Linked DNA regions of Homo sapiens. The protein of the gene in region 1 purifies or fractionates together with the protein of each later gene. This does not show direct contact. Each region holds a gene or a part of one and is shown on either strand. Other genes may lie near its edges.

What was found.
Region 2: the proteins of NFKB1 (region 1) and DPM1 purify together in Homo sapiens (affinity purification with mass spectrometry; 2 studies listed by BioGRID and IntAct, with this or other methods). This does not show direct contact.
Region 3: the proteins of NFKB1 (region 1) and RPS10 purify together in Homo sapiens (affinity purification with mass spectrometry; 2 studies listed by BioGRID and IntAct, with this or other methods). This does not show direct contact.
Region 4: the proteins of NFKB1 (region 1) and PCCB purify together in Homo sapiens (tandem affinity purification; one large-scale study listed by IntAct). This does not show direct contact.
Region 5: the proteins of NFKB1 (region 1) and RUVBL2 purify together in Homo sapiens (affinity purification with western blotting; 2 studies listed by BioGRID and IntAct, with this or other methods). This does not show direct contact.
Region 6: the proteins of NFKB1 (region 1) and AURKA purify together in Homo sapiens (affinity purification with mass spectrometry; 6 studies listed by BioGRID and IntAct, with this or other methods). This does not show direct contact.
Region 7: the proteins of NFKB1 (region 1) and KPNA3 purify together in Homo sapiens (affinity purification with mass spectrometry; 2 studies listed by BioGRID, with this or other methods). This does not show direct contact.

Annotation. Positions count from the first base shown.
Region 1 is NC_000004.12:102,598,859-102,602,358, forward strand, and holds part of NFKB1 (nuclear factor NF-kappa-B p105 subunit), read left to right. Parts: exon of another isoform or gene 1-877; intron 878-2,036; coding exon 2,037-2,151; intron 2,152-2,786; exon of another isoform or gene 2,787-3,173; intron 3,174-3,500.
Region 2 is NC_000020.11:50,952,033-50,955,532, reverse strand, and holds part of DPM1 (dolichol-phosphate mannosyltransferase subunit 1), read left to right. Parts: intron 1-247; coding exon 248-347; intron 348-3,500. UniProt on the Homo sapiens protein: Transfers mannose from GDP-mannose to dolichol monophosphate to form dolichol phosphate mannose (Dol-P-Man) which is the mannosyl donor in pathways leading to N-glycosylation, glycosyl phosphatidylinositol membrane anchoring, and O-mannosylation of proteins; catalytic subunit of the dolichol-phosphate mannose (DPM) synthase complex.
Region 3 is NC_000006.12:34,420,012-34,423,069, reverse strand, and holds part of RPS10 (small ribosomal subunit protein eS10), read left to right. Parts: intron 1-1,262; coding exon 1,263-1,340; intron 1,341-3,058. Other genes in the region: RPS10-NUDT3 protein, read left to right, coding at 1,263-1,340. UniProt on the Homo sapiens protein: Component of the 40S ribosomal subunit. The ribosome is a large ribonucleoprotein complex responsible for the synthesis of proteins in the cell.
Region 4 is NC_000003.12:136,298,840-136,302,339, forward strand, and holds part of PCCB (propionyl-CoA carboxylase beta chain, mitochondrial isoform 1 precursor), read left to right. Parts: intron 1-2,190; coding exon 2,191-2,272; intron 2,273-3,500. UniProt on the Homo sapiens protein: This is one of the 2 subunits of the biotin-dependent propionyl-CoA carboxylase (PCC), a mitochondrial enzyme involved in the catabolism of odd chain fatty acids, branched-chain amino acids isoleucine, threonine, methionine, and valine and other metabolites.
Region 5 is NC_000019.10:49,000,387-49,003,886, reverse strand, and holds part of RUVBL2 (ruvB-like 2), read right to left. Parts: intron 609-3,500; coding exon 553-608; intron 1-552. UniProt on the Homo sapiens protein: Possesses single-stranded DNA-stimulated ATPase and ATP-dependent DNA helicase (5' to 3') activity; hexamerization is thought to be critical for ATP hydrolysis and adjacent subunits in the ring-like structure contribute to the ATPase activity.
Region 6 is NC_000020.11:56,385,716-56,389,215, forward strand, and holds part of AURKA (aurora kinase A), read right to left. Parts: intron 3,070-3,500; exon of another isoform or gene 2,694-3,069; coding exon of another isoform or gene 2,597-2,693; intron 2,488-2,596; coding exon of another isoform or gene 2,483-2,487; coding exon 2,441-2,482; intron 819-2,440; coding exon 542-818; intron 1-541. UniProt on the Homo sapiens protein: Mitotic serine/threonine kinase that contributes to the regulation of cell cycle progression.
Region 7 is NC_000013.11:49,705,683-49,709,182, forward strand, and holds part of KPNA3 (importin subunit alpha-4), read right to left. Parts: intron 691-3,500; coding exon 586-690; intron 488-585; coding exon 416-487; intron 102-415; coding exon 1-101. UniProt on the Homo sapiens protein: Functions in nuclear protein import as an adapter protein for nuclear receptor KPNB1. Binds specifically and directly to substrates containing either a simple or bipartite NLS motif.

The DNA.
Region 1 (3,500 bases):
AAGTTCCCTCCTAAGACCCAAGCACACTCACACAAGCCGGCTCTCAGAGAGGCCACAGATTTGGGACTTGGAGAGACCAGAGGATCCTCATAAGAGCATAGGTATAGGGCAGCTTTTGGCCATCACAGCCCAAGTCTCTTGTTTTAATTCAGCTCGTCATATTTGGCTAATAGTTTAAATCCTGTGGCCATTAGTCATCATAGAAAATATAATAAAGAAAAATATATAAAACTTCTGCTATTGGGGAAATTCCCATAAGGGTGTGAGGATTTGAGGGGGAGGGGGAATGTACTTCTGCTATGAAATGCTGAGCGGCACATGGAAATTTTCGAGCAGTTTTAGAAGTATGACCTTTTTCTTGGTGTATGTGCATCATGTCTATGTCAGAGTTTAGGCCCTTTTCAGAAGTCTTCTTCCAGTATCACATTTCAAGAAGCAATAGTGAAACCCTGAGATCATCCGTTTTAAAATATTTCTCAAGTAGCAAAATCACAATTTAGTTTTTTAGGCTCTTCTGTGCCGGAGTTAATCCCAAGTACGATATACTTGCTATTGCTAAGGAAGAGGCTTGAGTAAAGTGGCACCTGATAGCTTATTTTAGAGAAGATCCAGCCTGTACCTCGTGTCCCAGATGTAGTGCTGCTGCGAGATGCTTTAGTGTGCTCTGCACCTCAATCTGTCCATGCTCTGGAGTGGTCATCTTCTTAGACATTCATCTGAATGTCTTTAGAACAGTGCACATGTATCCCCTATGCAGGATTGCTTAAGGGATTAAGAGATGGCTTTGGAGTAAGACAGGCCTGGGCTTGAATCCCAGCTTCACCACGTATTGGCCTTGACTGAGTTATATGACGCCTGCAAGTCTCAGTTTCATTAGCTGAAAAGTGAAGATAATATTACCTAACTCATAGGATTATTGTTATAGTAAAAAGACAATATATATCAAATGCTTAGCATAGTCTGGTAAATCAAAGCTCCCAACAAATAGTAGCCACTGGTAAAATGATTGTTATTGTTATTGTTTTGAATTTTAATAGTATGTTTTTTAATAATTAAAAGAATTACGCTCCTGTGAGTGACTTTGACACCACCAGTATGTTCAGCCTCATTAGCGTAAGCTCTTAAGTTCCTTCTATCATTCTTATTTTTGTGCCTCTACTGCATGCTAGGGTTGTAAGGCTGACTCAGACAGAACCTGCCCCAGAGATGACAGGACAGAGAACGAGAAAAATGTGTAGAAAACTGCAGTTGCATAACCAAGCAGTAAATTTGAGAGGGACAACTTGCTCCACCTAGGAGGTTAGGAAAGTATTCTCTGAGGATGTCAGGTTTGAACTGGAATATAAAGGATGGAGTAGGCATTGTTCAGGCAGAAGAAAGGAGCAAAAACATTCCAGGCAGAGGGAATATTTGCTGGAATGTTTGCAGGAGTGGTGGGAAATACAATCACTTTGTTTCTTCACAAGTTTACTGCAAGAATTTTCTTCCAGTAGTTAAAAGCTTCACTCCATTCTCCACTCTTGGGATCTGGAAAGATCTTTAAAAAACCACCACACTGTATTTTGGAGGAGGGCAGCAGGGCTAAGTGAGGTAACTAAGTTTTTCTGAACAATTCCTAGTGCCAGGCATTCATTTTACATAGAATCTGTGTGTCAGGAAAAGTCAGGGGGAAAGGTAGAGAAGAAAACCGCCCAAAGCCATGGTATAGAGGCAGGATTGGGATTTAAGCTTAGGTCTTTCTGGGCTGGAAGCCTCAGTGTGTTTATACATCAAGGGGTCAAGACCTGAATGCTCCCAGAGGCCAGGAAGGTACCACAAATAACGTAGCAGCCTTGGGTAGGCAGTTGGGAGGGACCAGTCCTCTGGAGACAGCATCCCACCTCAGATTCAATGCATTTTATAGATTCAAAACATTTTAGGGCCAAATAAAACTAGGTATGAGAGCAGATTCCATTCTTGAGTCTAATCACATCTTGGGAATCTTTTCTTTTTCATTAACATTTTAGTTAATTATTGCCACTGTGTTTTCATTCCAGTGTCTTACACTTAGCAATCATCCACCTTCATTCTCAACTTGTGAGGGATCTACTAGAAGTCACATCTGGTTTGATTTCTGATGACATTATCAACATGAGAAATGATCTGTACCAGGTAAGCAGAAATCTCAAGAAAACAACTGAAGAAAAATCTGTAGTTTACTTTTTCTTCTGTTATGTTTGGGTGCATGTTATTTTTAGTAATGTTAACAGTAGCAAAAACAAAAACAAACCTTTGTAGGTAATATCTAAAATCCCATTAGTTGAGAATGTTACTTTATGATGTAGGATCCTTTGATCTGTGGGTATAACAGCCATCAAGCCACAATGAAATTCAGCATCCCGCTGGGGGAAGGCAAACTTTAAACTTTAGAAATCAAACAGTTTTTTCATTTAAGAGGGAGAAACTAAAGTAAAAATGTCACATCTGTCAAGAAAAATAAAGTTAAAAAAAGTTTGAAAAGCCAGTAATTTATAATAATTTTGAAGTCTACTGAAACATACCTTGACAACATCCAGATTAAATGTATATCAAATGAAGCATTCTGAAATCACCACACAGAAAGGTTAAAAGTTTGCTTGAGGAGGAAAAGGTGTCTTTCAAAAGCAGAAAGACAGCTCCAAGTGAGGAAAAGTGGGAACACCAGAGTTTTGCCCAAATCAGGTTTTCTTAGGAATTAATTAGGTGGGCTGAAAATACAAGTTGAGGAACTGTTTTTTCCAGAGGTCTTCCAACACTGCAAAGGGAGAGTTAGCTGGAGACACAGCGAGGCCCTTTGATGGGCATATGCAGAATTCAGGGAGAGGCAAGGAGCCTGGGAGCCACTTCGGCAGAAGCAGAGCTTGGACGTTGGTGATGGGAGCCCAGTGACCCCAGCCAGCCTTTCTGGCTGAGCGACTGCACTGGCATGAAACCAAGATGGGGTTCGGCTCCTGAGGTTTCCTCCTTCCTGCCCCTGATTGCTTTTCCCACCTCACTGTCTTTCCCCTACTCCCACCAGTCTGCTGTATGGGGCTCCTGCCCTTGCCCACTTCTTACCTTTCCATTTGTCTCCTTCCCTTCATCGACCCGAAGCATCTTCCTCATCCTCCTTGGAGAGATGGTTTGCTGGTTCACGTGTATCTCTCACTCCAAAACTATGGCCAAAATCCTGTGTAATTATTTACTTAGTAAAGATATTTGTTCCTGCTCTCTCAGTTTTTATAGCAGTGATGTGAATCATTTCTATTTCCTCACTTTAAAGGAAAATGCTTTTATTATTTTAAAGAAAATTAATTAAAACTTCATTTTCTTTAAAGGAAATTAAAATATCTATTTTCTTATTTTTATTTCCATTCTTTAAAATGTGCTTTAGGCTGGGTGCGGTGGCTCACACCTATAATCCCAGCACTTTGGGAGGCCGAGGCAGGCGGATCATGAGATCAGGAGATCGAGATCATCCTGGCTAACATGGTGAAACCCCG
Region 2 (3,500 bases), on another chromosome or scaffold:
AAAAGTTTGTTCTCTGTGTAGGAATTCTTTAATATCTCAGGACATTAGCATGTTTCAGCAACATACTGGGTTTGGAGGTAAAGTACTAAATGTTTGACATTTATTTCATTTGATAATTGAAGTTTTCCTCAACGATTAATATAGCAATACATCTCCATTTATACTTTTAAGGAATTAGTAATTTTTAAATTACTTTTAAATTTGAGAACACTGTCATCAGTCATTAATACAAATTTAATTTTTTTAGTGGAATCAACTATGAAATTATAATCATAGATGATGGAAGCCCAGATGGAACAAGGGATGTTGCTGAACAGTTGGAGAAGATCTATGGGTCAGACAGAATTGTAAGTTATAAGAACATTTTTCTGTGATATGAATTGTGATTATGTAGGGGAAAGATGAGACATGAACAATGCTTAAATTCAATCTATTTGTTTAGAAACTGAAAAGATAAAGAGCAACTTACGCATTTGGGATTTAAATGCATTTTTGTTGTCCGTAAAATTTTACATATCTTTGGTATGTTGGGTCAGTGGTCATTTTACAGCAAAGAGTGAGCTTTTGGATGAACTCTGTTTATAACTAATTCTGCAGATAAATTTTCTTGAAGGGCAAAAATTAAAGCATGATACTGAATTGACAAGGAATATTATATAATTGGGTTATAATTGGTAGTGTGTGTGTGTCTTAATCTTTCTTGCTCCCTTTCGGTAAGTATTCTCATGCTTTCATTAGAGAATACTGCCTGAAATTAAGAGCGTGTAGGTAGAAAAAGTTACTGTTTTCTTGTGAAACATTAATGACTTCTTAGAGTACTTGGCATTTTTAGTCTATAGAATAGTCTTGTGAAAGTAGATTGACTGTATTAGTCCTAAACTTTAGATTCACCCACTGTACCTTGAAACTTGTTATTCTAATATAGAAGTTACTTAGGCAAATATAGAGTTTATTTTATAATGGCTTCATGAATTTTATTTTTGGTTACCGGTTTGTATTTACAAATGTTTATGTATACTCGAGCTCTTTTATAATTTATATTCACAAATTATTGCAGACCACAGTTTTTCAGTCTTGGCACTATTGACGTGTGGACAGATTAATTCTTTACTGTGGGGGTTGTCGTGTTTATTGTAGGATGTTCAGCACCGCATCTGGACTCTTCTCACTAGATGCCACTAGAAACCCCCCTCCCCACTTGGCAACTGCAAATGTTTGGATATTGTGAGATATTTCCTTAGGGGAAAAATTACCCTTTGCCTCCAGTAGAGAACCATTGGTATAGAGAAAGAAGTCCCTTTGAGAACCTTTATTGTTATTTACAGTTCAAGAAATGGTAAATTAATCATTTTAAAAAAAAGCCACTCAGTCTAAATATTCTTGATAAATCTCAGTAATAGAAATACTTTCTACTTAGAGGTGAGTGTCAGTTGTATGAGGTCTTGGTGGCAAGAGTTTAAAGGAACTGTGTTACTACATGGTAAATGTAGTTCTAGGAATTCTTTCAGTCTGTCTCACAGATGAGTAACTCAGGTCTGTCACACCTCAAGTCTTCTCTGAAAACCTTCTAATGGATGGGAATACAGAAAGAGGTAAAAAGTTGACAAATTTTCAGGCTTCTAGCAGAGACTTTCAGTAATGCTAGGTTTGAATTTTTGGCCAGTAGTTCCCTGTTTTCTTTAGAAGCCCAGGGTGAAGGCCACTGATTCACAACACTTTTGAGTTATGTGCTGCCATTTAATCTCGGACCATCAACCAGACAACATTTTGAATACTTTTGTCATAAAACCTCAGCCTTAGGATGTGATTGATTGATTTTAGGGAATGGTTACTAAACTGACCTTTCAAATTTTGGAACAACATTGTCTTCAAAGACATTTTTTCTATCAACCCAATAAAATTCAAAATGAGAAAAAAAGTTGCATTCACTGTTACGATTTCCCTCTACTACCAGATAAAATTCCTTATTCATTCATTATTTTATGACATTTAAATAAGTTAAACTAGAAAATGACTTTTAAAAAAAAACAGTATTAATCCATGCTAGGGATGACACTTGCTTTTAGTGACAGATGTATGTTTCGTTGAGAAAATGAAGGATATTGAAACCATGTTAGAATACCTCAGATAAAGTGTTCACCACAGATGCTTTGTCAGCCTTTCAGACTGGCTGAAATGAATCTTTCAGAAAAGAAGCCAAAGAAGATATTTTTAAAAATTCTGTAGGTGACACAACTGAAGCGAGAGGTTAGGTCATTTTTAATGACCTAACTAGGTAGGACCATAGAGAAATTGGGGGCACTTACTCTGAACTATTCACAGTGCTTACAAGGCAGAGATCTGAAATTGTGAAGGACTTCAACTGCTCTGTGTTGAATGCTTTTATTATGTTTGGTTTATGTAGTTTGTTTCATCTCCCAACTTGAGATCAGATAAAGTCATTTATATTTTGTCATATTTTCTTCCAGCTTTATTGAGGTATAATTGACAAAGTTATATATATTTAAAGTATGAATACCACATTTGGGGAATGAACCTGTCCATCACCTCACGTAGTTACCCTTGGGGGCAAGTTGACAGTGATGAGGACAGTTAAGATCTGCTCTCTGTAAATTTCAACTATATAATATGATACTATTAACTATAGTCACCGTGCTGTGTGGTAGATTCTTAGAACTTTGTCTTACATTTTGTCATTATTTTATAGTTTAGTATTTTAAAAACTTACTCTGATAATAAAATGTAACACGTTTATTATTCTTAAAACATCAAATGTAAGATAAAAAGGTTTGACTACTTGAAAATATTAAACTTCTGTCCATTCCTAAATACCAAAATATTTCTAACAAGATCAGTACCCCAACCAACCAGATAATTCATAAGACCAAAACTAGAAATGGCCAGTAAACAAGAAAAAAATACTGAGCCTCACTGATAAGTGAAGATTTACAAAACAGGAGGAGAGTACATATTAGCCTTATTAGCTGAAGATTTATTTTTATTTTCTCCTTTCTTTTTAACCCAGTGTTTCTGAGAGTATTATAGAACAAGTCCACTCAAATACTGTTGATCCTAGTATAAATTGATACTGTTTTTCTGAAGTATCATCTGGCAGTAATCTCATGACCCTCAAAAATCCTTAATGCCTTTGTAATAAGTATAAAGCAGTTTATAAAACTGTATATGTACTATAGTCTCAATTCTGTTTTTAAGTAACTTTTTTCAAGATTGTCTGTGATAAGTTTTACAAAGGTTCTTGTCAAACAAATTATAGTTTCCCATAAAAGTATTTTATAAGCAGCTGTGGCAAACATGCTTCAAAAAGTATATGCCTGTCATTCTTGCAAGCACTTTATGTGAATCCACTTGCTTGTTCCTCATGAAAGCCAAGTGAGAGGGGGCTTTGTCACGCCTCTTTATATTCTCAAGATCACATGGCAAATGAGTAGTGGCCAGGATTCAAACCCAGGCATTGTGGTTCCAGGGTTCATCTTCCTGTC
Region 3 (3,058 bases), on another chromosome or scaffold:
TATATTCTGTCACCTAGGCTGGAGTGCAGTGTCACGATCCCAATTTACTGCAACCTCTGCCTCCTGGGTTCAAGTGATTCTCCTGCCTCAGCTTCTTGGTAGCTGGGATCACAGGCGTGCACCACCACACCCGGCTAATTTTTGTAATTTTAGTAGAGACAGGGTTTTACCATGTTGGCCAGGTTGTTCTTGAACTCCTGGCCTCAAGTGATCACCTGCCTTGGCCTCCCAAAGTGCCGGGATTACAGGCATGAGCCACTGCGTCTGGCCATTTATGATAATTTTTTTAAGGTAGCTCTTAAAGTTTGTGCCTTAGGGTGTGGTGGCTCACACCTGTAATCCCAGCACTTTGGGAGGCCAAGGCGGGAGGATCACATGAGACCAGGAGTTCAAGACCAGCCTGTCTAACATGGTAAAACCCTGTCTCTACTAAAGATACCAACCAAAAAAAATTAGCCTGGGCGTGGTGGCTCGTGCCTATAATCCCATCACTTTGGAAGGCCAAGGCGGGAGGGTCACTTGAGGTCAGGAGTTGGAGACCAGCCTGGCCAACAGGTTGAAACCCCCTTTCTACTAAAAATACAAAACGTAGCCGTGCGTGGTGGCACGTGCATGTAATCCCACCTACTGGGGAGGCTGGGGTGAGAGAACTGCTTGAACCCAGGAGGCAGAGGTTGCAGTGAGCCAAGATCGCGCCACTGCACTCCAACCTGGGTGACAGAGTGAGACTCCGTCTCACAAAAAGATAATAAATAATAAAGTTTCTGCCTTAATATATATCCCACAGCCTAACAGGTATGTGAAGAAGCCCAAGAGGAACTCAACGATTCTTGGTAACCCCTAGATTATGTACTTAATATTGGAGTTGGGACTTTCAGCTTAGGATGCTTCCTTTTCTGTTTGCATATACTAAGTTTTCCACTTAACGTGGGTCAGGTTCAAAAGTTTAGCTATTCAGATGTTCATAGAAATAGCTAGATACCTAGATTGGTCCAATAATTGGAAAATAGTTTTATGTTGAAACAAAATGGAAGCCTTTTTTTTTTTTTTCAGATTTGCAGCCAAGATTGTCAATAAGTTTCTATGGAGAAATAATTATTTCTAGCTGACATTGTAGGTTTAAGGAGTTCCTGTCCCCATTAACCCATCTTAACCAAGTGGTTGCTGAGAGTGACAACAGGAGAGCAATGCCAGTTTTCTTGGCTTTAAGGGACAGAGTTCTCACATTGCCCTGTGTTCACAGTGTGGTTTGATTTACATAGGTCTGGAGGGTGAGCGACCTGCGAGACTCACAAGAGGGGAAGCTGACAGAGATACCTACAGACGGAGTGCTGTGCCACGTGAGTAAATGCATCACCTATATTAGGGGTGTTGGGGTGAAATGTCTGGATTCTCACAGCTGGCTCTGGCTGGGTGGGGCTCAGCCCTTGATGATGACAAAATGACCAGGAAAGATTCTTGGTTTCACTCTGCAGAGCATCAGAACAGCTGGAGTCCTTTGTGCTTCTTTCTTCATGCAGTGATTTCATAGATGAGAATTAGGAGGAGGCTGGGATTTTTTAAAAAACAAAACTCAGGCCGGGCTCAGTGGCTCATGTCTGTAATCCCAGCACTTTGGTTGGAGGGGGGGGGTCGAAGTGGGCAGATTACTTGAGGTCAGGAGTTCGAGACCAGCCTGGCCAACATGACGAAACCCTGTCTCTATTAAAAATACAAAAATTAGGGCGGTGTGGTGGTGGGCGTCTGTAGTCCCAGCTACTTAGGAGGCTGAGGCATGAGAATTGCTTGAACCTGGGAGGCAGAGGCCGCAGTGAGCCGAGATCATGCCATTGTATTAGATCTATGGCTCACACTGGGCACGAGGATAGGGGGAGGAAAGCAAATGCCAATAACAAATATGGTTTCAGTAATTGTTAAAGTTGTCACTCCAGCCTGGGTGACAGAGCAAGACTGTCTCAAAAAAAAAAAAAAACCTCTTCGGTAAAATGTGGAGCTTTTGTTAGTATTTTTGCAAAGGAATAATAGGATTCAACTTTTTTTTTTTTTTAATTTTCTTTCATTTTTGAGACAGTCTCGCTCTGTCACCCAGGCTGGAGTGCAGTGGCAAGATCTTAGCTCACTGCAAGCTCTGCCTCCTGGGTTCACGCCACTCTCCTGCCTCAGCCTCCCGAGTAGCTGGGACTACAGGCGACCGCCGCCATGCCCAGCTAATTTTTTTTGTATTTTTAGTAGAGATGGGGTTTCACCGTGTTAGCCAGGATGGTCTGGATATCCTGACCTCATGATCCGCCCGCCTCAGCCTGCCAAAGTGCTGGGATTACAGATGTGAGCCACCGCGCCCACCCGGATAAAGTCACTCGTTGTTGATTGTAATACAAAAGCAAGGTGTACAAGAAGAGTTTTTACTAACTTCTACCACTCTTAGCTTTTTTCTGTCATCTTTTGGAGAAGTGACCACTTGACCTGAGTACCATACAGGGTAGTAGAAGGAATGAATTTCTCCAGCCCTTGGTTCAGAGGAAGTTGGTGATACTGGAAGTTTAACGATTATGGGCCAGGCACAGTGGCTCATGCCTGTAATCCCAGCACTTTGGGAGGCCGAGGCAGGTGGATCACTTGAGGTCAGGAGTTCAAGACCAGCCTGGCCAGCATGGTAAAACCCCATCTCTACTTTAAAAAATTAGCTGGGCATGATGGTGTGTGCCTGCCTGTAATAATCTCAGCTACTCGGGAGGCTGAGGCGGGAGAATTGCTTGAACCTGGGAGGCGGAGGTTGCAGTGAGACAAGATCATGCCACTGCACTCCACCCTGGGCAACAGCAAGACCCTGTCTCAAAAGAAAAGAAAACGATTACTGAAACCATATTCGTTATTGGCATTTGCTTTCCTCCCCCTATTCTTGTACCCAATGTGAGCCATAGATCTAATACAAAATTTCCTCGTAGCCACACTTGAAAAAGCAAGTGGAAACAGGTTATTTGAGTACTAATGTCTTTTATTTAATCAAATATTTGTAAAAGTGAGTTGGGAATGGTGGTATGTGCCTATAGTCCCAGCT
Region 4 (3,500 bases), on another chromosome or scaffold:
GGGAAGAGGTCATTTTCAGATGCTATCCTGTAGCTTAAACCTGGACTCCTTCCTGTGGGGCCTGGTCTGGGCCAGGGATGCTCTGAAGAGTTGTGTTGCCAGGGCCTCACTCTGTCTGCCTCTGCCCACTCCACAAGGGACATACCCAGTGGCCCACTGTGTGTAGTCATGGAGGGGAGAGTGGTCACAAGGTCCAGAGCTGTGGGTATAGCCTTTCTGAGTATACAGTTTGGAGTTCCTGAAGGGTTTAGGACATCACTTGAAGGTATTATGGCCCAGGAGCCCAGAAATGTCTGCATAGCCCGCTTTGGCCCAGCTATACCTCTTCTGCATATGATTCCAAGGGAGATATATATCCATATATATGTATACATATATATATGCATGTGTATATGCGTATATATGTATACGTGTATGTGTATATACATATGTTCATGTGTGCATATGTACGTATATGCATATATATGTATACATACATGTATACATATTTGTGCATACACACATACACATGCATACATATGCATGCATAGGTATATATGCATATGTATGTATATGTATGCTTATGTATATGCATATGTATGTATATGTATGCTTATGTATATATGCATATGTATGCATGTGTATGTATAGGTATGCATGTGTATGTATGTATATGCATGTGTATGTATAGGTATGCATGTGTATGTATGTATATGCATGTGTATAGGTATGCATGTGTATGTATGTATATGCATGTGTATGTATAGGTATGCATGTGTATGTATGTATATGCATGTGTATGTATAGGTATGCATGTGTATGTATGTATATGCATGTGTATGTATAGGTATGCATGTGTATGTATGTATATGCATGTGTATGTATAGGTATGCATGTGTATGTATGTATATGCATGTGTATGTATAGGTATGCATGTGTGTGTATGTATAGGTATGCATGTGTATGTATGTATATGCATGTGTATGTATAGGTATGCATGTGTATGTATGTATATGCATGTGTATGTATATGCATGCATATGTATGTATATGCATGCATGTGTATGTACGTATATGCGTACATATGTATGCATGTATATGTATGCATATGTATATGTATACGCATATGCATACATATATACATGTATGCATGTATACACACATGCATGTGTATATATGCATACCCACACATATGCATGTGTACACGCCCACACATGCATATATGCATGCCCACACACATGCATATCAACACATATATGCATATACGCATATCTACACATATACATACATGCATATCTACACGTGTATATATGTATATCTACACATGTGTTCACATACATATATACACATATGTATATGTGTATATATGTATGACAAGTAAAAAGGGAGGACTTTATTAGCAGATGGGGCTACCCTTAGTTTTCTTTCCAGCGTAGAGCTTTTTGCGAAGTTGGGCTTGATGGACACATGGCCTGACCCAAGGCCAAACCTCAGCCCAGGAGTACGTCTCAGGGTCACTGTAGCCCCTGGCTGCCCACACTGGGAAGGAGGGAATGAAAGCCTATTGGAGAGAAGAGGTTGGAGAGGGGCAAGTTGCTGGGTCCTCCTGTAGAGTGGGAGTGGGCTCTGGCTTAGTTTTTCTGCTGAGACACTTGGATGCAGGAGGAAGGAGAGAGTCCATGAGCCTGCATGTGACAGGTTCTGTGGTGATTTTGCCCAGAGGGCCTGCAGTTTTGCTTTTTGAAGGAGCTTTAGCAGATTAACCTAACAGGGAATGTGAACCCACAGTGGTTTATGCAGAGCTCTGCCTTTGCATTTCCAAGTCCTTGTTCTTTTAATGTTCCAGGAAGTTGGGCTGGGCTCTCCCAGGGCTGTGTCTTGTTCACTATAATGTCCTTCAGTGCCCTACACGGTACCTAGAATGTAGGAGGTATTCAGAGAAGATAAATGAAAGAATAACGTTTAGAGGAATAAACTCATTTTTTCCTCTAAAAGAGAACCAGAAGATCTTTTGGATTGATACTTGTCCCAGGTTCAGTTAATATGGTGGTTAAAAAGGAATGACTCTTTGGTGACTGCTTTGTAAGCCCAGCAGGGACAGAACTGGCCCAGTCCCTATGACGTGTCACCCCATTTCCTTTCCCACCCCATTCCCACAAAAGGTAACTGGCTCTTCCTATGTTGACTATACCTGCCTTTTTTCTGCCTAAAGTGACCGTCTGGTTCCTGAGCTTGACACAATTGTCCCTTTGGAATCAACCAAAGCCTACAACATGGTGGACATCATACACTCTGTAAGTGCCACATCTGTTTGTCTTGCCTGTCCTAGTCAGCCACATTCATGGGCATTGTGCTTCGGCTTAGTGAGGAAGCACTGGACCACTTGGCCTCCATGTCAGACAGCACAGGTCGGGAATAGGGTGGGCACAGGACCAGTGGCCACTGAGTAGTGTGTTCTGGAAAGACCTAGTGGCTATAGATACCCTAGTGGCACAGATGGACTTGAGGGCTGGAGATAGGAGTAGTAAGGGCCAGCAGAGCTCAGGAGTCTTTAGAAGGCCCTCTGAGGATCATAAATTAGGGGCCATGTCCACAGAGTCTAGAGTGAGGCCAGAGTGATCATTGTTAAGTATCATTGGGGCCCTCTGCTCAGAGGGGGTTTTGTCTTTATAGAGAAGAGAGTACACAGGGCATCCTAGAAGGTTGGACTGTGTGTGTGGAGGTCCGTGGGAGACAGGAGCCATTTGTACCTTTTTTTGGTACAGCAGATTCCTGGGTCATTAAGTAAAGGGGACAGTGTTGGGCAAACTGAAGGCATCTGTAGATGGCCAATGCCTTCCTTAAGGGTACACTGTGCTCTCGGTAGTCCTTGTGCAACACATCGTGATGGCTCTCTGGTAACTCTAGAAGTCAGATTCTCCCTCTTCCCTAGGGTTTGCTGTTTTCTGTTATTGTTTTTGTCTTTTTTATTCTTGTAGTCTCTTCCTGCACCAAGGATTAGCCTGAGATGTAACCTTAAGGTCTTCCTTAGGTCTTTTCTGAGCCTTTGCAGGGGCACGTGCAATCACTTTCTAATTTTCCCTGCATATGCAGTTGTTTTTGAGTGTCCTAGTTGTTAACGTCTGGCTCCCAAAAGTAGAAAAAGAGAAAAAAAATGAAGATGGTAAAAAGATGTCAGCCCTTTAAATTCCTTGGAAGTCAGTTCAGCCCAAAGCAGGAGAGCCTCGCAACAGTGTGGGGAGTTGTAGCAACAGTGACCACCCATCTCTTTGCACCTCTGTGATCAGAAGCAGCAGTCAGCAAGCACAGATTCTCAATATTTGGAGGACAGGGTCCTTTTATGCCCACCCCGGCTCCTGCAAGCTGTGTGCAAACTGCTGCAGGAACACTTGCGGAAATATCTGTCATGGAGCTGGGGTGGGGGATGGGTAGCTGCTACTATGCTAAGAGCTGAAATTAACTCCAATTTTCAGTCCAATCCTTCCCCTGGAAGTTGCAGTCTTTCAACAGACGCCAGAGTCA
Region 5 (3,500 bases), on another chromosome or scaffold:
CATCTCAGCCTCCCAAAGTATTGGGATTACAAGTGTGAGCCATTGCACCCAGTCTAACTTTTTTTTAAGGTGGCAAAGCAATTGCTACCCACTCCCAATTCTTTTTTTTTTTTTCCGAGATGTCACCCAGGCTGGAGGGCAGTGGCACAATCTCGGCTCATTGCAACCTCCACCTCCCAGGTTCAAGCAATTCTCCTGCCTTAGGCTCTTGAGTAGCTGGAATTACAGGCATGCACCACCATGCCCGGCTAATTTTTGTATTTTTAGTAGAGACAGGGTTTCACCATGTTGGTCAGGCTGGTCTTGACTCTGACTTCAGGTGATCCACCCACCTTGGCCTCCCAAAGTGCTGAGATTACAGGCATGAGCCACCACACCTAGCCTAATCAATTCTTTAGTACCAAGAAAACCCACATGTGGTTGAAGTTTATGGGTATGTAGCCAAAGGTCCAGAAGACCGTAACATAGTCCCCACACTCCCCAGGACCCTGGGTACCCACTACCCAAGACCTTCATGGAGAGGCCCTCACACCCCAGCCTCCTCTGCTCTACCTGCCGAGGCTCCAAGGCATCGTCCAGCCCCAGTCCCCGGATGTGGGAGTGGGCACCTACATGAAGGGAAAGAACAAAGACTCAGTTACTAGCCAGCTTGCTGCACATGTGGCCTGACCCCTCTGAGCCCTGGTTTCCTTCTTTGTCAAAGGGGTGGGTGGGAGTAGGGAGCAGGGGTTGGGGGAATGAAGGGGCACATGGAAAGGATATCCCAAATTGGCACCTCCCTAGGAAGATGGCTGAATGTGGTAAATGCTCAATGAACTGGAGCTGCTCTGAGGATGCATCCTAGTTAAACAAAAGTCACTGAGGCCTGATTAAGCACATAATTGTACTAAGATCTAACCACAAGGGCTAATGATCACAATTACTTCATGTTTATGGTTTACACAGCACCCACATGTTCTCAGTTTATTCCATATGATCCTGCAAAAAAAGAGCCCTGGCTGGGGCCGGGCGCAGTGGCTCCTGCCTATAATCCCAGCACTTTGGGAGGCCGAGGCGGGCGGATCACTGGAGGTCAGGAGTTCGAGACCAGCCTGGCCAACATGGTGAAACCCTGTCTCTACTAAAAATACAAAAATTAGCTGGGCATGGTGGCAGATGACTGTAATCCCAGCTTCTCAGGAGGCTGAGGCAGGAGAATTGCTTGAACCTGGGAGGCGGAGGTTGCAGTGAGCCAAGATTGTGCCACTGCATTCTAGCCTGGATGACAGAGCAAGACCTGTCTCAGTAAAACAAAATAAAATGAAACAAGAGCCCTGGCTGCTATCACCCTGAAAGCACTTCTGAGTATCAAAATGGCAACAGTCCCAGAACCTATTGATATGAATGGGGAGGGAGCTCAGAGAGGTTAGGTCCCATGCCCCAGCCACACAGCCAGCGAGAGGGGAAGATGGGATTCCCATGCTTTACATTAGATGAGGGTTGAGCAAACCTCAGCCTGGAGGCCAGCCACCTGTTTTTGCAAATAAAATTTTATTGGAGCTGGGTACGGTGGCTCACGCTTATAATCCCAGCACTTCGGGAGGCAGAGGCAAGCAGATCACCTGAGGTCAGGAGTTCGAGACTAGCCTGGCCAACATGGTGAAACCCCGTCTCTACTAAAAAATACAAAAATTAGCCTGGCGTGGTGGCATGCACCTGTAGTCTCAGATACTCGGGAGGCTGAGGCATGAGAGTCACTTAAACCAGGGAGGTGGAGGTTGCAGTGAACTGAGATCGCCCCACTGCACTCCAGCCTGGGCAACACAGTGAGACTCCATCTCAAAAAAAAAACAACAAAAAACCAACCAAAAAATCTTTGTATTGGAACACTGCCATTTATATACTGTCTGTGGCTGCCTTCGCACTGCAAGAGGAGAGTTGAGTAGTTTCAACAGAGGAAGGATTTACCATCTGACCCTTTAAGAAAGATTTGCTAGGGTCCAGGCGTGGTGGCTCACGCCTGTAATCCCAGCATTTTGGGAGGCCGAGGCAGGCGGATCACGAGGTCAGGAGATAGACACCATCCTGGCTAACACAGTGAAACCACGTCTCTACTAAAAATATAAAAAATTAGACGGCCGTGGTGTCAGGCGCCTGTAGTCCCAGCTACTCGGAAGGCTGACAGGAGAATGGTGTGAACCCGGGAGGTGGAGCTTGCAGTGAGCCAAGATTGCGCCACTGCACTCCAGCCTGGGGGACAGAATGAGACTCCGTCTCAAAAAAAAAAATAAAATAAAATAAGGAAAGATTTGCTGACCCCAGTGCTTGACTGTGAGCACCCCAAGGGAGGCTCCTGGGTGCAGCTAGTCTCTACTGGGTCCTCAGCTCACAAGCGGTGCTTGGCTCTTCATCCTTTTTTTTTTTTTTTAATTTTTTATTGTTTTTTGGCCAGGCGCGGTGGCTCATGCCTGTAATTCCAGCACTTTGGGAGGCCGAGGCGGGCGGATCACGAGGTCAGGAGATCGAGACCATCCTGGCTAACACGGGGAAACTCCATCTCTACTAAAAACGCAAAAAAATTAGCCGGGCATGGTGGCGGGCGCCTGTAGTCCCAGCTACTCGGGAGGCTGAGGCAGGAGAATGGCGTGAACCCGGGAGGCAGAGCTTGCAGTGAGCCGAGATTGCGCCACTGCACTCCAGCCTGGGCGACAGAGCGAGACTCCGTCTCCAAAAAAAAAAAAAAATGTTTTTATTTTTATTTTTTGAGAGAGCGTCTCACTCTGTCACCCAGGCTGGAGTGCATGGTGCAGTCACATCTCACCACATCCTGAACCTCCTTGGTTCAAGCAGTTCTCCCAAGTAGCTGGGACTCAGGCATGGACCACCACTGCCGGCTAATTTTTTTATTTTTTTTTTAGAGACAGGATCACACTATGTGACTCAGGCTGGTCTTGAACTCCTGATTCAAGCAATCCTCCTGACTCCACCTCTCAAAGTGCTAGGATTACAGGCGTGACCCATCATGCCCGGCCATACTTGGCACTTTTTGTTTGTTTTTGAGATGGAGTCACTCTGTCACCCAAGCTGGAGTGCAGTGGCACGATATTGGCTCACTGCAACCTCTGCCTCCCAGGTTCAAGCCATCCTCCCTAGTAGCTGGGACTATAGGCATGCACCACCATGCCTGGCTAATTTTTGTATTTTTAGTAGAGACAGGGTTTCACCATGTTGGCCAAGCTGGTCTCAAACTCCTGACTTCAGGTGATCCACCCGCCTCGGCCTCCCAAAGTGCTGGGATTACAGGCGTGAGCTACAGCACCCAGTCTCGGCACTTTTATTTATTTATTTATTGAGAGACAGAGTTTCACTCTTGTCACCCAGGCTGGAGTGCAATGGCATGATCTTGGCTCACTGCAACCTCCACCTCCTCGTTCAAGCAATTTTCCTGCCTCAGCCTCCCGAGTAGCTGGGATTACAGGCACGCGCCACCACGCCCAGCAAATTTTTGTATTTTTAGTAGA
Region 6 (3,500 bases), on another chromosome or scaffold:
CTCCCAAAGCGCTGGGATTACAGGCGTGAGCCACTGCGCCTGGCCTTCCACAGTAAACTTTCTAAAAGGCAGAGTTCCCTTCTGAGTTCAAAAAAGCTTCAGTAGCTTCCAAATGCCCTAGAGATGAGGCCCCATTCCTTAACATGGCCAGCAATGCCCATGGTGACCTCACCGCAGCCTGCCTCAGTTCACCCACTTCTCTGGATTTCCCCCACACTTTAGATCTCAGTCCCTTCAAGTCACTTACTGCAAGCACCCTACATCCAGACTCAGTAACAAGCAATCAAAAGGACACCAATTTATGCTGTGTCCTCCCTGGGTGCCCAACTCTTCCAAGAGGGTGAGAATCAGGTCTGTATTTTTAGCATAGGTCTGGCCCATGGGCAGACACTGTTACTTCAACCCAGACACCATATTTTCTCCCCATCCTCAACAGATATAAAAGCTAAGGCTCCAAACAATAAGTGCAAGTATATACACTGGCTTTTTTAGCAACGACGACAAAGAAGGACTATCCAATGAGTCTCAAAAGCTAGTTTACCAGGTGCCGATGGCAGGGGCTGCTTGCTCTTTTGGGTGTTATTCAGTGGCCTGGAGACAGGATGAGGTACACTGGTTGCCTGCAATTGCTTCTGCTTCTGATTCTGAACCGGCTTGTGACTGGAGACAAGCTTTTGTGCTTGCAAAGGAATGCGCTGGGAAGAATTTGAAGGACACAAGACCCGCTGAGCCTGGCCACTATTTACAGGTAATGGATTCTGACAAGGAAATTGCTGAGTCACGAGAACACGTTTTGGACCTCCAACTGGAGCTGTAGCCTAGAATGGAAGAGAAAATAAACTTTCTGGCATTCATGAAAGCAAAAGATGAATATATTGAGAATTTCACAAAGTTTGTTCTCTAGTATAGCAAAATAATGAATGTCACTGATAAGAGATGGAAGGTGAAAAGGTATTTTAATCAGTACCTCCAGAGGATAGTTAGTATGTGGCTAAGAATACCTGAATGATACCTTCTATCCCCTCCAATTCCTCACCCCTAAAAATCATGCTTTATTAACAAATATCCATTAATGAAGGAGACACTTTCTAAAATTTCTCAATAATTTGGAAATAGACACTACATTGCTATTTGGCAAAAAGCTATGATACAAAAACTTTATGCCAAAATCTCAGTTCCATTGAAATTTCTTTGATAATATACGTTTAAGAAAAAGACCAAAAAAAAATACGTCAAAACGTTCAACAGTGGTATTATCTTCATGAAGTTTTAGAAGAGTCTAAGTTTTCATATATCGAAGATTTTCCACAATAAGCTTATTACTGTACTATTGATTAACCAATGTTTCATTTTCCAAGTATTGACAAAATGGAATTGAGCAAAAAACTGACAAAGAGGAAACAAATGTAGACACTTCACAAAGTTACTACTAAAATGTATTATTATTATTATTTTTGAGATGGAGTCTTGCTCTGTCACCCAGACTGGAGTGCAGTGGCATGATCTCGGCTCACTGCAACCTCTGCCTCCCAGGTTCAAGCAATTCTCTGCCTCAGCCTCCCAAGCAGCTGGGACGACAGGCGCCTGCCACCACGCCTGGCTAATTTTTTGTATTTTTAGTAGAAACAGGGTTTCACCATCTTGGCCAGGCCGGTCTTGAACTCCTGACCTTGTGATCCACTCTCCTTGGTCTCCCAAAGTGCTGGGATTACAGGCGTGAGCCACCGCGCCCAGCCTTGAAATGTATTATTTATACGCCTGTAAGTACTGTATTACAACCTTAAATTGTTAAGTTAACTCTAACACCCTCAGCTAATCAAACTAAAAGGGGTAGGAGGGATGAGATTTCCTTCAGCTTCAACAGCTCATTGTAAGTGAGGGACAAGTGCTAGAAATGAAAGCCTCAAAGTCCATCCCCAGCTCAACGGTATGAGTGCTCTACAAAGAGAGGGTGTTAAGACTTCCAAATACAAAGTCAGTTACTCCTGAAATTAGCACACTGTCCACAACGCAGCAGGCATTCAGACAAAGACAAATAAAAAGAAACATTTTAAATATAGAGCAATTTTTTAAATGGCCGTTATCATAGGAACTTAGAATCAAATACAGTAATTCAAGGTAGCCTTTTTCTAATTATTTTATATTTATGGCCAATTTTAAAAGTTTTGAACTCCTGCCAGATGCATTATTACTATTATCCTGCATACAGTGGAGGGATATAGAAACTTAAGCAGCCGATTATAAGACAAAGCAGAACAAAAAAGCTACTCTAAGAAGCAGCAAAATGTTACTGAACACGAGAAAAGTGACTAATTCATATCCAGGATCACAGTAAGGGATCTAAATTTAAATCCAAAGTAAAGGCGGAAAGAATTCCCGACAAGACCAACCTCCATGTGGGTTTATAAATGTGAATGAGATTACAGATTATTCAATTTACCTTAACAGGTCCTGAAATGCAGTTTTCTTTAGATCGGTCCATGATGCCTGAAAAGAAAAAGAAGAACCTTTAATTTGAACAAAGCCACCTGCTTAAAGTGCTGTTGCTCGATAGGCAGCGTTACAGTTCCCCAATCAAAAGGCCTCCACAACACACCGGATTTTACATGTTTTGTCCAAATGAAGCTAATGAGGGAGGGACAGGCATGTGCTTTCCCTGCAAGGCCAACCTCCCCTTGGGCACTGCGTCCCATCCTCTGTCACGGAGTCTTCACTCCTGATGGTCTTGCTGCTCCATCATCTCTCCTCTAATGGATCACTTCCATCCCTGTGCAGCCTACTGGCATACCTGCTACCTTAAAAAAGTCCTCTTTAGGCCGGGCATGGTGGCTTACACCTGTAATCCCAGCATTTTGGGAGGCCGAGGTGGGCGGATCACCTGAGGTCAAGAGTTCGAGACCAGCCTGGCCAACATGGTGAAACCCCGTCTCTACTAAAAATACAAAACTTAGCTGAGCGTGGTGGCAGTCACCTGTAATCCCAGCTACTCGGGAGGCTGAGGCAGGAGAATCACTTAAACCCAGGAAGCAGAGGTTGCAGTGAGCTGAGATCACACCATTGCACTCCAGCCTATGGGAAAAGAGCGAGACTTCGTCTCAAAACAATAAAATAAAATAAAAGTCCTCTTTATTCTATTATCGTTGCTAACAATGACCCCCTCCTCTCCAACAGCAAAGCTCCAGAAGAACCGTCCACACTTGCCACCTCTACTGCTCCTCTCCCCTCCCCTGAGCCCATCCCCACCTGGCTTTTTTGTCTCCACCACATTGTCAGGCTCATGGCTGACACCTACTGCTGCCAAACCCAAGGGTCAATTCCACCTTCCCCGTACTTGCATCCTCAGCAGAATCTGACAAGGTTGATCACATCTTACACTTTTTTCTTCACTTCACTTCCAGGTTTATCTACCACCTAGTCGTCCTGTCTTTCCCTCCTTGCTGGGTCAGTCTCATTTTTGCCAGATCAAGGGTCTGGGGTGACTCAAGAACGAGTCCCTGGAC
Region 7 (3,500 bases), on another chromosome or scaffold:
TTTTTTAGACCATCTAGAACCACCTGAACCACTTGAGAATCTTTCACTGACAGTAAATTACAGAACGGTGGTATTACATTCTGCTGTACAAGGTACTCAACCTAGACAACAAAAGAGAAGAAATATTTTTATTTATATAATTATCTATTTCCCAGTAGGGTGTCGTGCTACATGGAAGGCTGAGGCAGGAGGCTATCTTGAGCCCAGGAGTTGGAGGCTGTAGTGCGTTATGGTCATGCCTGTGAATAGCAACTGCACTCTAGCCTGGGCAACATAGTGAGACTCCATCTCTTAAAATAATAATAATTATCTTTTCCCCAAAAAGAACACAATACAGTCAGCAACTACGAAACATAAGAGAGCAGCATGCTTTCCAGTATTAACAATCATGACAGTTACAGGTTTTCAAACTCACCTGATCTTTTCTGCCACTTATTGTTAAGTTGCTGATTGCCCAAGCAGCTTCTTTTTGTGTTCCAAAGTCCCCCTGAAGGTTAAAAATGAGATCATAAAATGGACTCTTTATCCAAAAAGTCTTGGTTATTAACAGATTAACAGACACGGTGAACTCATAATATGACCAACCTTAGCAAGCTGATGAATTATCATAGGAATTAATCCAGCATCTATTACAGCTTGAACTTGTTGCTGGTTGCCTGCTGTTATGTTGGAAAGGAACCACACTGCTTCCTATAATTGAACAAAATATAGGGCACCTTTATTTGAAAAATAATACCTTTAATGTCTTTCTAATATATTTTATATAGACAATAACAAAATCACCTGAATTACGTTAAAGAGACTGCACCTAAAAAGTGATTAGGTATACAAAATCTTCCATTTTAAACAAGTTATAAGGAAATTTCCATTAATTATATTTGGGCTCCAATAACCTGGCATTTATCCATTCATTAATATATAGGCCTACTATAAGCTAGGCATTATTCTAGGAAATGGTGATTTTATAGAAATGAACAAAACAGAAATCTTTATTCATGGAGCTTACATGTCTGTGCATTAGCTTCCTCTAAAAGACAGAAATAAATATACAACTGAATTTCTTTTTTCTTTTCTTTTTTTTTTTGAGACGGAGTCTTGCTCTGTCGCCCAGGTTGGAGTGCAGTGGCGTGATCTCGGCTCACTGCAAGCTCCGCCTCCCGGGTTCACGCCATTCTCCTGCCTCAGTCTCCCGAGTAGCTGGGACTACAGGCACCTGTCACCACGCCCAGCTAATTTTCTTCTATTTTTAGTAGAGACGGGGTTTCACCGTGTTAGCCAGGATGGTCTCGATCTCCTGACCTCGTGATCCACCCGCCTAGGCCTCCCAAAGTGCTGAGATTACAGGCATGAGCCACCGCGCCCAGCCACTATACAACTGAATTTCTAAAACTACTTAAAAACTACTTCTAATAAAGGTGATTTCTTTTTTAATTTTAAAAAATATTTACTCACAAGATATAGTCATTCAAGTATTCCATAAAAATTAACCATCTAACTAGTCTAGCATGGGTCTATATAACATAAATATTCTAAAACTAAGGGATTTATAAGTCATAAACACGTCTGTGAGCTGTTTACAGGTTAGTATCACATGTGTATCTTCCTCTTCCACAAATGAATTTGTTTTGCCATCCAACTGTGGTAAGTTGTTAATAATTGCTGAATCTGTGTTTAGAGTACATGGGTGTTCACTATACTATTCTTGCACATTTTTTGTAGATTTAAAAAGTTTCAAACAGAAATGCTGAGGGAAGAAAATCAAGTTGGTAACTTCTACTTCCAGGGTCCTATGATAGTCTCAAAATGCAAGTAACAAATTTTCAAGGCAAAAAATTTTTGAAGTAACTAATTGCTTGCTGAAGTTGAGATGGCATTTCTATGAAATTTTCCTCTACCCCCCACGATACCCTCACTTAAAAGCATACTACATCACAGGCCGGAACCTTTCTCTGCTGACTTCTGCCCAGCTTCCTCACTTCTCAGTTGTTTCCAATTATGGAATATATTCATTTAGCTAAAAAAAAAAAAATCACCTATATTGTTAAAAATTTCTTTAGTAAAAGTAACTGGCCCAGAGTCTGAAAGTCTCTGGCTTCTTTGTCTTCACTGGAACAAATGTATCTATAAAATGTGTTTTTTGACACCATACTTTTCTATAAGAACCCAACAGTCAAATTATACTCAAGCAACTATACAAATATAGTTATGATGACGAAGAAGAAATGATCAGTTCTGCTGGGTTTGGGTGATGGTAGTATATTAGGCAGATAAAACTTTAGTAAACTAAATGTAAATTTATTTCTTTTTCTTTTTTCCTTTTTTTTTTTTTTTGAGACAGAGTCTTGCTCTGTCGCCCAGGCTGGAGTGCAGTGGCACAAACTTGGCTCACTGCAAACTCCACCTCCTGGGTTCATGCCATTCTCCTGCCTCAGCCTCCTGAGTAGTTGGGACTACAGGCGTCTGCTACCACACCCGGCTAATTTTTTGTAATTTTAGTAGAGACGGGGTTTCACTGTGTTAGCCAGGATGGTCTCAATCTCCTGACCTCGTGATCTGCCCGCCTCGGCCTCCCAAAGTGCTGGGATTACAGGCATGAGCCACCATGCCTGGCCAACTAAACGTAAATTTAAACCACAATGAGACACCACTTCACATCTACTAGGATTGTCAGTAATTTTTTTTAACAGAAAATAAACGTTGGCTAGGATGTGGAGAAATTAGAATTCTAGTAACACTGCTGGTGGGAATGTAAAACAGTGCAGCTGCAATGGAAAACGGTTTGGTGGTTCCTCAAAAAGCTAAACCCAGAATTAACATATGATCGAGCAATTCTACTTGCAGTTATATATCCAAAGAAATTGAAAGCGGGAACTCAAATAGGTATTTGTATGCCAATGTTCACTGCAGCATTCTTCGTAATAGTGAAAAGGTGGAAACAACCGAAGTGTCCATCAACAGAAGAATGTAAAAACAAAATGTGGTGTATACATACAATGGAATATTTATTCAGCCATAGAAAGAATAAAGTTCTGACACATGCTGCAAAATGAATGAACCTTGAAAACATGCTAGATGAAATAAGCCAGGCATGAAGACTTATTACATACTAGTAAGTACATATTACACAATTAATAATAAACTTGTCTATGAAGCTTGAAATCTTAAAAAGAGTAATTTTTTATGATCCTTGAATTTAGGCACCTCGTCTTTGGGTCCAAACTAATTTTGCTGGGAGATCAAAATTTTTATGATCGGTTTGTTTAAAAAAATACCAGCCCATTCAAATGGCAGATTTTGTCTGCACTTTCAAGCGGCTACTAATTTAATGATTGTTGCTATGCTCAGTCTACTTAAATAGAAACACAGGTAGTCTAAAAATGTTTTTTACTCTGTGATGACCAGGGCAGCACCTACCAGAAGCGATTAAAAGTTGAAAAAGGCTGGGCGCGGTGGCTCACGCCTGTAATCTCAGCACTTTGTGGGGCTGAAGCAGGCGGATC